Linked DNA regions of Homo sapiens: region 2 is linked to region 1. The links come from fine-mapping of genetic effects on gene expression. A gene starts in region 1. The other region holds a variant in brackets. All regions are shown on one strand. Distances are from middle to middle.

Region 1 (5,368 bases):
TCTTTCCAATCATTCTCCTCTCCCATAAATTATGTTAAGTGCTTCCATGTGCCCACAGTCCTTAAGGAATTCTGCAACAGCCTTTGAGGAGATTAGAAGCCTCTGATGTTCCTTATGAAATTCAGAAAACCATCTGGAAGTAATCTAAGTTAAGGAATTAATGATTTGGGGGTTAAATGATACATGACTTAAAAAAAATAAATACAGAAAACTTTATTAGCCCATGAACCTCAATTTTTGTGGATTTACCTATGAAAGAGAAATTGACTATATCATCTGTTTTATTTGTTTGTTCAGTTTTGTGTGCATGTTTGTTTGACTGCTCTTGAGAGGGACACGCAATAGATTAAATGGAGTCCTAAAGGAAGGTTTGCAGAGAAGCTTTCATTTGCTGGGTCTCCTGAAGGCTCTCACAGGGGATGCCCGGAGGCATCATAGTCTCAAGGGGCATCTGTGATTCAGGATCACCTGAAGACAGTGGCTGCCTTTGGGGTGCTGTGCAGTGAGCTTATCTGATTGAGAATCCTTTCCCCACTCCAACCCCATGTTGAATTAGTATTTATTTTGCTGTGGCTTGTTTGGTAGCCCCTGGTTTTGATTATTTGCATCACAGAGATGTAGTCCAGGACCTGACTTGTCTTTGCAGTAGGGACAGCAATGTTCTGTGCCAAAAGGAAAGAAATGATGTGGAAAGAAGGTACATTATGAGGCTGCATAGAACAGGGGAGTGGAGGGCACTTCTTTGGGTTTTTATTTTTTGTCCCTGTTATCCAATAGGGAGGAGAGAGGATAAGGCAGATTCCCATCCTCAGTTACAAACAATGGGACATGTGTATTTCTCCCTCATGCTGGGAACATTTAAATGAAAAAAAAATTATTCCCCGGTGATGTTCAGGCTCAAAGCACTGAGAATAAAACGTACCTTCCGTTTTAGGAGCCCAAATCTACTTTACAACTGCCCCCTGCCCCCAAGGTCAGGTCTACACTAGCTGAATGTACTGAAGAATTGGGCGATTATCAGCATAATCCACTTTAAAAATCAAGTCTCTGCTATCCAGGCCTATGAGAATCAAGCTTTTACCGTTCCCTTTGGGGCCTGGATAGTTTTCAAGCTGCCTTCTCCTCACATCATGTGAGTAGAGCCGGCCAAGAAAACCAGGGAGACATCTCCCCCCAGCCTGGCCCAGACTTCCGGGCCCCACCCCAGGAGAGAGCCTCCCACTCTGGCCAGTGCCCTGCAAAGCCTTCGCCCCACCCCGCCCCAATTTCTCCTTATGCCTGGCTCATTCCTTAGGGGCTGAGTTGGGAGATAAGACTTGGGGTTGCAGTTGCTGGGGATCATTCGTTTACATTTCTTTTCTTTCAATCAAGGACTTCTTTTTTTCTTTTGAAATTCTTTCCTGCACTGATGGTGAGAAAAGACCCCTCAGGCTTCCTTTTGATGTTGGACCGAGCCAGCCCACGGTGAGAGGGGATGCTGAGCCCGTGGTGAGGAGCTCAGGACAGGAGGGGACGTCCAGAGACCTCCGAACCCATGGCCCTTCATTCCCAGTCACAAGGGGGGAGTCGGGGTCCCGCCCTCAAACTGCTCAGACCACGCGTGGCAGAAAGAGCAGAGCATGAGCATCAGGAACCGCACAGGGAAGCCGCTGAGATCACCTGGGATCACCACCATGAGGGAGGCCAGCCCTGGAGAAATCAGAGGGAAAAGATAGAGAGAACGAAGTCGGGGGGGGGGGGGGGAGGGCGGATCTTCCTTGTCTGAGTCTGCAGAGAAATTGCCTATTGCAGGAGCAAGTCTAGAGAGGGGCTATTCTCCACCCACTGAAAAGATAATAAAACACATGCTATGGGCGGCGGGGAGATGATTGGGGAGTGGAAGCCCCACAGACATGCAGTGAAAAATGATCCTTTCTTCCCCTCTGCGTTCTCGTCCCCTTCCCAGAGACACCGCTGTGATCTCGTGCCTCGCCCCCTCCGCACACGCACAGGTGCACACCCGCATCTGTCTTGAGCCCGCACCCCGCCTTCACGCTCCGCTGCGCGCTGCTTTTCCGCGCTCAGTGATCCAGTTAGGAGCTCTCCCCGCAGCAGCTGCGCGGGACTTTGCATTCCAGATGTCCCCAGCCCTCCAGGCTAAAGCAGCGGCCACCTGAAGTTGAGGAATGGGGCGTGACGACCACCAGGTCCCGCAGTGACCACGGGAGGGTGGGGAGAAGGAGTCCAGCTCCGCCTTGAGCGTCGGGTCCCTGGGCAGGACCCTCCGGGCCACGGGCCGCTGTCCGTTGGGCACCCGGGCAGGAGTCTGCGAACGCTGAGTTTCTCTGGAAAGGCGCGGACCCCCGGAGGAGCCGTCCCAGCCGCCTGGGGAGACGCCCCCTCCTCTCCCGGTCTTCTTTCCCGGGCACACCCTCCCTAGCCCGGGCGGGGGGGTTCTCCATCTGCCGCCCCTCCCGGCGGGCAGGCGAACTCTCTCCTACCGCACCCTCAATCTGTCCGCGGTCGCGGGGCTCGGCGGGGGCGGGGCCCGGGCGGGGGCGGGGGCGGGGCCGGGGGCGGGGCGGGCCGGCGGCTGCGGAGGCTGCGGAGGCTGCGGGAGAAAAGTTGTCCCGGCCGGAGCGCGAGCAGCGGCGGAGCCGGAGCCGCCAGAGCCAGAGCCGGAGCTGCGGCGGCGTGGACCCGGCAGGGGCGGGCCTCGGACAGCAGAGACGCAGCGGGCCCGGCCGACCGGGCTGCGGGAGTGGCCCCGGGCATGGGGCGGCCGGCGGGGGCCGCGGGCGGGCGCTGCGCTTCGGGCTGGCGGCGGGCTGCGTGAGCGGCCGGGACGCAGGATGCGCTCCGAGGGTGCGGCCCCCGGGCCGGCGGCGCCGCTGTGCGGGGCGCTGAGCCTGCTGCTGGGCGCGCTGCTGGGCAAAGGTAAGGCCGGGGCGGGTGCCTGGCGCGCCGACGCATGCGAACTTCCCGGTTCCGGGGGAGCTCGGGGTGAGGGCAGCCGAAGCGAGGGGTGCGGCGGGGGCCTCGGCGGGGGCTCGGATCCCATCAACAGCGCCTCTGCGGGTGCCGAGCCGCCCCTAATCCAGAAGGGCGCTCCCAGCTGGGCGCCGGGATCCGGGCAAGTTAGGCTGGTCCCGAGTCCCGAATCTCCCACCCCGGACCCCCCAGACCCAGAGCTGCCCCGCGGATGAGGAGGGGGCGTGGCTGAGGGACACGGTGTTTGTTCCCCATCCCTGAGTTCCGTGCGGACCTGCCCCAGCCCCAGCACAGTCACCCTGTGGAACTGGCATCCAGGAGAGGTGCTCCGCTCTGTGCGCTCCTTCCTCCCGGCTGTGTGCTCCCTGTCCACAGCTCCCCATCCACAGCTTCGGCACTGTGGGGCTGGTGCTCCAGGAGGGAAGGCCCGGTTCTTTGCATCCCCTTTCCGCAACCGCTAGGGTCTCTGTGCGGGCCCTAGAGGAACGCTCACTCATCGCGCAGCTCACCAGGGACCCCAGCTTGGCAGAAACCAGGGGCTCTCTGCGGGTTCTCTCAAATGAGTCCTTTGCGGTGGGGGAGCGCGGATGGGGAGGTGGGTGCGTCCCTCGCGACGGGAACTACCTCACCAGCGGTCCTGTCCGGGGCTCCTTCACCTCAGTGTCCTCTTCTCTACAATGGGAGTGACGGCCCTGCTTTGGGTTGGAGGAATTTAAAGGAGTTAACGTATGGCGCCCGCAGGGCTCACGAAAGGTAGCCGTGTGGTTTTTCCGACCTTTTTTATTATGTGCGTGTGCGGCCGAGTGGCCGCGCGGATGCGGCGGCGGGAAGGGCGGGGAGAGGCGGTCTCCAGCCCCAGGAGCCGCGGGGCAGGCGGGGAGCAAGGCCTAGGCTCTGCCAGGGCAGCAGCTGCCCGAGTCCCGGGGCGCGCCCAGGGCGTAGAAAAAGGAGAGCGTCGCTTTCCTGCTCCCCGCGCCCTGGCGAAGGTCTCGGGTTCATTTGGTTAAACGGAGGTGCGCACATGGGTGCCCTGAGCCTTCGCGCGGCGCCGCGGGTCCAGTATCGGCCCCAGGCTCTGAGCAGAGAACACTCAAAGCCACCCTTCTCCCGCCTAATGCTCTGAGGCTGAGCTAGAAATGCGTTCAGAGAGACAAGTTGTCAATGGAGGTTTAAAAGTAGCGTTTGCTTTTCAAAAGTCATTCTGCACCGCCTGAAAATCCAGAAAAATCTACTTTCCTTGAGGCTGCGCTTTCCCAGATACACCAACCAGACAAGTTTGCTATGTTTTATATAAGTGTTCCTTTCTTCCAAGAGCTCCAGGTAGGGAGGAGGGTGGGGTGAGAGAGGGGGGGGAAGAAGGAGTGAGAGAAGAGGGAAAGAGAGGGTGGGGCGAGAGAGGGGGGAAAGGGGGTGAGAGACGAGGGAAAGGGGGGGCAAGTCGGGGGTGGAGGAGTAGGAGAGGGGGGCACTTTTCTATTTTATTTGAAAGAGTCAACAGTCACGATCTGGTGCCTGAATTCTGCTGTTAATTAGCTCTAGGTTCCAGCGTTTCTAGGATTCAGTTTTCCTAGATGCAAAGTGGCCATTGAAGAATTCCCTTCCCAACCTACCTCCCAGCAGTTTTTTGTTGATAAAATGACTGAATGGGTAGTAAAGCACTTTGCAGAGGAAGGCGGTGCTAATTGAGCAGGGCGTGACCGACCTCCTCCGGGTTTTCACCCCTTGCCCTTGAGAGAATTTAACCAGGCGAACTGGATGTTCCCTTTAAAGCAAGTGTGGACTGTTCTTCATTAAGGCTCACATTCCGTGTGTGTGTGTGTGTGTGTGTGTGTGTGTATCCAGAGGATTTTACTTTTGATTACGAGAGTGGCTGTTACAGATGTCCATGTGTTCAGTGCTGGGGGCAGTGATTTGGCTGGAAAGGCAACTGGGACTGGATTTGAAGCTGATATTTGCACAACAAGGGAAAGTGCTGAAAACTAGGGACGTAGCGAAGCCCCACCCCTATCCCAAACCGCCTCTGCCCTCTAGCTAAGTGCAACCTTGATTTGATGGGGCTTTCTTTCCCTGCTTTTTGCTTTACAAAGTTCACCACGTGATTTGGGGGTGCATAAGGGCCTGCAACTTATCATCTGCAAAATACATTTTCCGTTTGTTTCTCATGATCAAAAGCAGCAGTTCATTCCCCCCTCGGATTCCTCCACACGTAAAGCGTTTGCACCGTAAGATATCTTCTAGAGAGGAAAGTTTGCTGACCTTGTTTACATTTCTGCTGTCTTTAAAAAAAAAAAGCCATCTCTGTCTCTTCCTGCACACGGATTTAAGTGCTGATTTCTGGAATCCTTGAAACCACTGATTAATTTTTAATACCAATTGTCTGTTTATTTTTGACTGTGGA
Region 2 (5,368 bases), 440 kb after region 1:
ATCTGAATGGTTTTTACACCTACAAATAGAGGGTAGTAGCCTGCATGTTCTCCCAAGCCTTGTTTGCTCTAAAGAAAGTAGGATCGAAAAATGAAAGGAGAAATCACTTGGTATTTGTGCATGAGGTTGAGGCATTAGAAGGACTTATTGGATTGTGTGATTCATCAGCTGATATGGACAGAGGAGACGAGGGTGAGCACCAACATCGCTGAGCCATCTCTTCTGTCTTAGTTTTGGTCTGCTCAGAAGCTGAGCCTGAGACAAGGATTCAGGTGCAAGTAGTTTATTCAGGTGGTGAAGACAATACCAGTAGAGAAGTCGGGGGTGATGGAAGGAAGAGAAATGCAACCAGTAGAGTGTATTACCAACTCAGCCGCCGCCAAGGGCAGCCGGAGCTCCTGTCTGCTGGGCGACTGTATGCCGGTCTAGAAAGGCCAGAAGAGTTACTGCACTTGAGGGGCAAGGGATCTGGGATAAATATAACAACTTCCATGAGTCCTTCATTGAGGGCTGCCCACAGCATTTATTAACTCCTTGGCACATCTTGCTGTAGGCACAACCACATGGATTCCAGAAGCCAGAGAGTGACCTTGGGCAAAAAATAAGTTAAAAAAAAAAAAAAGCAAAGTTGATCATTGAAAGTTGAGCTAGCAGGAGCTGAATGGGCAGCCACCCAAAGAGAACTCCACACCCTCCTAAAACTTCCTACACAGGCTCACCCCTCAGAGCCAGCTGGTGTTGGCCAGGGCTTACCAACACAAGTGATATGACCCAATCCAACTCAACCTGCCTTCACACACAGCAGAATGTATCAGTTCATGTCCAAGCATTTGGATCTTCAGCTACAGCTACATGTAGATGCTCAAACGATGTCATCAGAATTCTTTTTTTAATTGCTAGCATTCTTCCTTGGTCCTGCGGGATGTAGAGTCATCATTGCTGTGAACACTGGCTGCTCCCAGGCTACTCCAATTTTTCCTTCTGGAATTCCTACCAAACAAGCGTTGGACATTCTCATTCTCTCCTTTATGTCTGTTCACCTGCCCTTCACAGTTTTATTTCTTGATATGCCTGTGGTTCTATTTGGGGTAACGTGGGTGGCTTTGTCTCCCACTGCAGTAATTCTCTCCTTGAACATGTCTCATCTGCTGTTCGAACCACCCATTGAGTCACTGATTTCAGTGACTGTGTTTTTCATTTCTAGAAATTCTACGTGGCTCTTTGCACCCCTTCCTGCTCTGCTTCCATTCGCTTCTTCTTCTTTTTTTTTTTTTTTTTTGAGACAGAGTCTTGCTCTGTCACCCCAGCTGGAGTGCAGTGGTGTGATCTTGGCTCACTGCAACCTCTTCCTCCCAGGTTCAAGCAATTCTCCTGCCTCAGCCTCCTGAGTAGCTAGGACTACAGGCACCCACCACCATGCTCTGCTAATTTTTGTATTTTTTGTAGAGATGGGGTTTCCTCATGTTGGCCAGGCTGGTCTTGAACTCCTGACCTCAGGTGATCCGCCCACCTCGGCCTCCCAAAGTGCTGGGATTACAGGCATAAGCCACCACATCTGGCCCCCATTTGCTGTTATTGAGACAATTTCAACTCCTTTTAATGTCTCTTTAATTTTTTAATTAAATTTTTAATTTCTTTTTAATTTTATTTCATAGACTATTTTTGTTGGTTCGTTTTATGTTATTTCATAAATAACATTTATTATGAAATTTATTTATTATGAAATGTATTATTATGAAATGTTATTATTTCATAAATAACATTATTTATTGTTTTATTTCATAGACTGTTGTTTTTTGTTGGTTTCCTTTAAGTTATAGCCTTTGGAGTCTTCTATGATCTCACATATCAGTCTGCTCACCTTCCTGTGTAAATGTTTAACACAACCACTCCCGGTGCAGCCTTGCCACCTACAGGTTGTAACTTTTCTTTCTTTGTATCATGAGCACCTCTTGAGCCCTGGTTGCTCGGCTTTGTTTTGTTCTGAAGGAGGTTGTATTTGCATTTGCACAGGTCCAACTTCAAGTGAGTTTCTTTTCTCCCAATTCGCATACCACAGAGGTAGTTATCCCACCCAAGTGTGGGCTTTTGGTTTTGAGTGGCGACATCTCCATCCAGTGCTCAGAGCGCACACAAGCTTTGCTGCTGTATCTCTGGCTCAGCAGGTAGGATTTTCCCATGCCCCGTCCATGGAGTGGGTGCTGCTACCTCCCTGGGCTGCAATGACAGTGTCCGGGATGGATGGGGACAAAGGTCCAGGAAGGCCA[C/T]GAGGTCAGACCTGGTTTGCTGTGAAAAAGGCAGGGAGGAAAGGAGGCAGCTACTTGACTTTTTCAGCAGAGGGTGAGTCATCATGGTCTTTGTGGGGCTGATAAAATGGGCTCTGGCAGTGGTTGTTCTAGGGGGTCCCTAGCACAGTGGTCAAGAGCTCAGCTCTAAAGCCACAGCAGTTCCAGCCCTGATCCTGCCTCTTCCTAACGATATGACTGGACATATTTCTTTTTTTTATTTTTTTAACTTTTATTTTCACTTCAGGGGTACCTGTGCAGGTTTGTCATGTAGCTACACTTGTGTCATGGGGGTTGGTTGTACAGATTATTTCATGACCCAGGTATTAAGCCTAGTACCCATTAGTTATTATTCTTGATCCTCTCCCTGGTCCCACCCTCCACCCTCCAATAGGCCCCAGTGTGTGCTGTTCCCCTCTATCTGTCCATGTGTTCTCATCATTTAGCTCCCACTTAGAAGTGAGAACATGTAGTGTTGGGTTTTCTGTTTCTGTGTCAGTTTGCTAAGAATAATGGCCTCTAGCTCCATCTGGTCCCTGCAAAGGATGGGATCTTGTTCTTTTTATGGCTGCATAGTATTCCACGGTGTGTGTGTACCACATTTTCTTTATCCAGTTTATCATTAATGGTCTGGAGAGTTTTTCCTAGATGAATGGAGGAGGCTGAAATATGCAATTCTAAGCACAAAGTGGAGAGCCTGTATCCACTGGGCACTTGCTGTGGATCAGGTGCCATTTAGGTTGACTTTGTGTCTTCGCTATTGTGACTCCATGTCTTTGCTATTGTGAATAGTGCTGCGATGAACATATGCGTGCATGTGAGCACAGTTCTTAACCTCTCTTTGGGCAGGAAGCATAACCCAACCTACTTTGTGGAAGAGGAGAAAATGCGTTCTGTAATAACTGCGAACAACACCTGACCCACAGCGAGTGCCCAGTGGATATGGACTGTCTGTTTTATGATTAGGATTGCACATTTCACCCTCCTCTATTCATGGGAGTTCCCACTCTTGGAAGCAGAATAGAAGTACCCATGGCTAAGTCAAGAATAAGGCCTTCTGTGGGATTATGTTTGCTGTGGGCACACAAAGGGGAGAGGATGTCATTATTGCCCTGGGGAGGAGGCGAGACAGCAGGAAACCTTGTGCTCATGAGAATCTGCCAGTCACATAGGCATGGGTGTGAGTGGCATTTCTAGGCCAGTAGCTTCCCCTTTTTTTGGAATATTATTCAGCCATAAAAAGAATGAAATATTGCCATTTGCAGCAACATGGATGATCCTGGAAGACATTACTTTGAGTAAAATAAGCCAGGCACATAAAGTCAATTTTTTTTTACCAGTCCCCACAATGGCAAATAGTTTTTACATAGCTGTTGGGTCACTGACAGAAGTATAGTGAGTCTGCAAAATAAACTCAGCCCCTTCACACTGGCCCTTTGCTTCCTCTTTCACTCTGCTACCCATGCAGAGCAAGGGCAGCACAATTGAACCGGGCCCACCAGCCAATGCCATGTACTGTGTCCCACACATCACTGCCGCCCAACTACAGCCAAGCAAAGCATCTGCAATGGCTCAACAGGGTCAACCTTAAAGGGCAAAATGCTCTTGTTTTCTTGTTTCTCAGGCAAAGCTTAATTCACTGGGGGCAGTGCAGGGAGAAGAGGGGAGGTTCCTTTCTGATGTCATTGGTTCTGACAGTGTTTCCTGCCCATCAACCTTTGTCATCAGGCTGGATACAGACAACAGCTGTATCCATTCATCATACTTAGGCCACTAATCACAGAGTGTGTGACAAAATGACCAGGGCCTGCCCTAGAAGCCAGTCATTGTCTGTGAACATGCACCGGCTGACTGATTCAAGCAATACCTGTGTGGATAAAGCCACCCGGAGCCTCATCTCACTTAGGGATTTTTGTTTTGCCATTTGTTTGTTCTGGGTAAGGATTATGAGGGCACTGTTAGTCACATCCCCATTTGTTCTTGTTTAAATTAAGGTGGTTTCTCTGCCCCTGATAGAAAACCTGTATGATTTCTCCCCAGATGCATGAGCTACTGGGTCTGGATTTGAGGTCCTGCTCCCTGTTTCATTGGGCGTCCTCCTAGGAGGGGGTTTCTAAGGGAAAAGGCATCCCCCAGGTGGTCTTCTAACTGCCTGTGTCCCTGCAGGAGGCTGTATTCAGCACGTGGCTGCAGTTCAGTGATGGCTCTGTGACGCCCCTGGACATCTACGACACCAAGGACTTCTCCCTGGCAGCCACCTCCCAGGACGAGGCTGTCGTGTCAGTCCCCCAGCCCCGCTCTCCCAGGTGGCCCGTTGTGGTGGCCGAAGGGGAAGGCCAGGGCCCACTGATCCGAGTGGACATGACGATCGCCGAGGCCTGCCAGAAATCTAAACGCAAGAGCATCCTGGCTGTGGGCGTCGGCAACGTCAGGGTCAAGTTCGGACAGAACGATGCTGACTCCAGCCCCGGCGGGGACTATGAGGAAGATGAGATCAAGAACCACGCCAGCGACCGCCGGCAGAAGGGCCAGCACCATGAGCGCACAGGCCAAGATGGGCACCTCTATGGCAGCTCTCCCGTGGAGCGTGAGGAAGGGGCTCTCCGAAGAGCCACTACCACGGCCAGGTCCCTGCTGGACAACAAAGTGGTGAAGAACAGTCGGGCAGACGGGGGCAGGCTGGCAGGAGAGGGGCAGCTGCAGAACATCCCCATTGACTTCACCAACTTCCCTGCCCACGTGGACCTCCCCAAGGCCGGGAGTGGGCTGGAGGAAAACGACCTGGTGCAGACTCCGCGGGGCCTGAGTGATCTGGAGATAGGGATGTACGCCCTCCTGGGGGTGTTCTGCCTGGCCATCCTCGTCTTCCTGATCAACTGCGCCACCTTTGCCCTGAAGTACAGGCACAAGCAAGTGCCCCTGGAAGGTCAGGCCTCCATGACCCACTCTCACGACTGGGTGTGGCTTGGCAATGAGGCCGAACTCCTGGAGAGCATGGGGGATGCGCCGCCGCCCCAGGACGAGCACACCACCATCATAGACCGCGGACCGGGGGCCTGCGAGGAGAGCAACCATCTCCTGCT

Evidence for each region. PIP is the estimated chance that this variant, and not a neighbour inherited with it, causes the effect.
Region 2: its variant is fine-mapped to the expression of TMEM132C in whole blood (TOPMed, PIP 0.97).

Annotation. Positions count from the first base shown.
Region 1 is chr12:128,264,572-128,269,939 of GRCh38, forward strand. It overlaps TMEM132C (transmembrane protein 132C), which reads left to right and starts at 2,599. Exons shown (of 9, transcript NM_001136103.3): 1 at 2,599-2,916. The coding sequence starts at 2,832. It overlaps LOC107987176 (a long non-coding RNA gene), which reads right to left and starts at 2,461. Exons shown (of 2, transcript XR_001749176.1): 1 at 2,000-2,461. RefSeq lists enhancers at 1,745-2,266, 2,802-3,640.
Region 2 is chr12:128,700,639-128,706,006 of GRCh38, forward strand. TMEM132C (transmembrane protein 132C) reads left to right here. Exons shown (of 9, transcript NM_001136103.3): 9 at 4,452-5,368. Among named protein-coding and RNA genes, the nearest start is that of SLC15A4, 120 kb to the right of the region's middle. The variant C/T (reference allele first, on the strand shown) is at 2,268.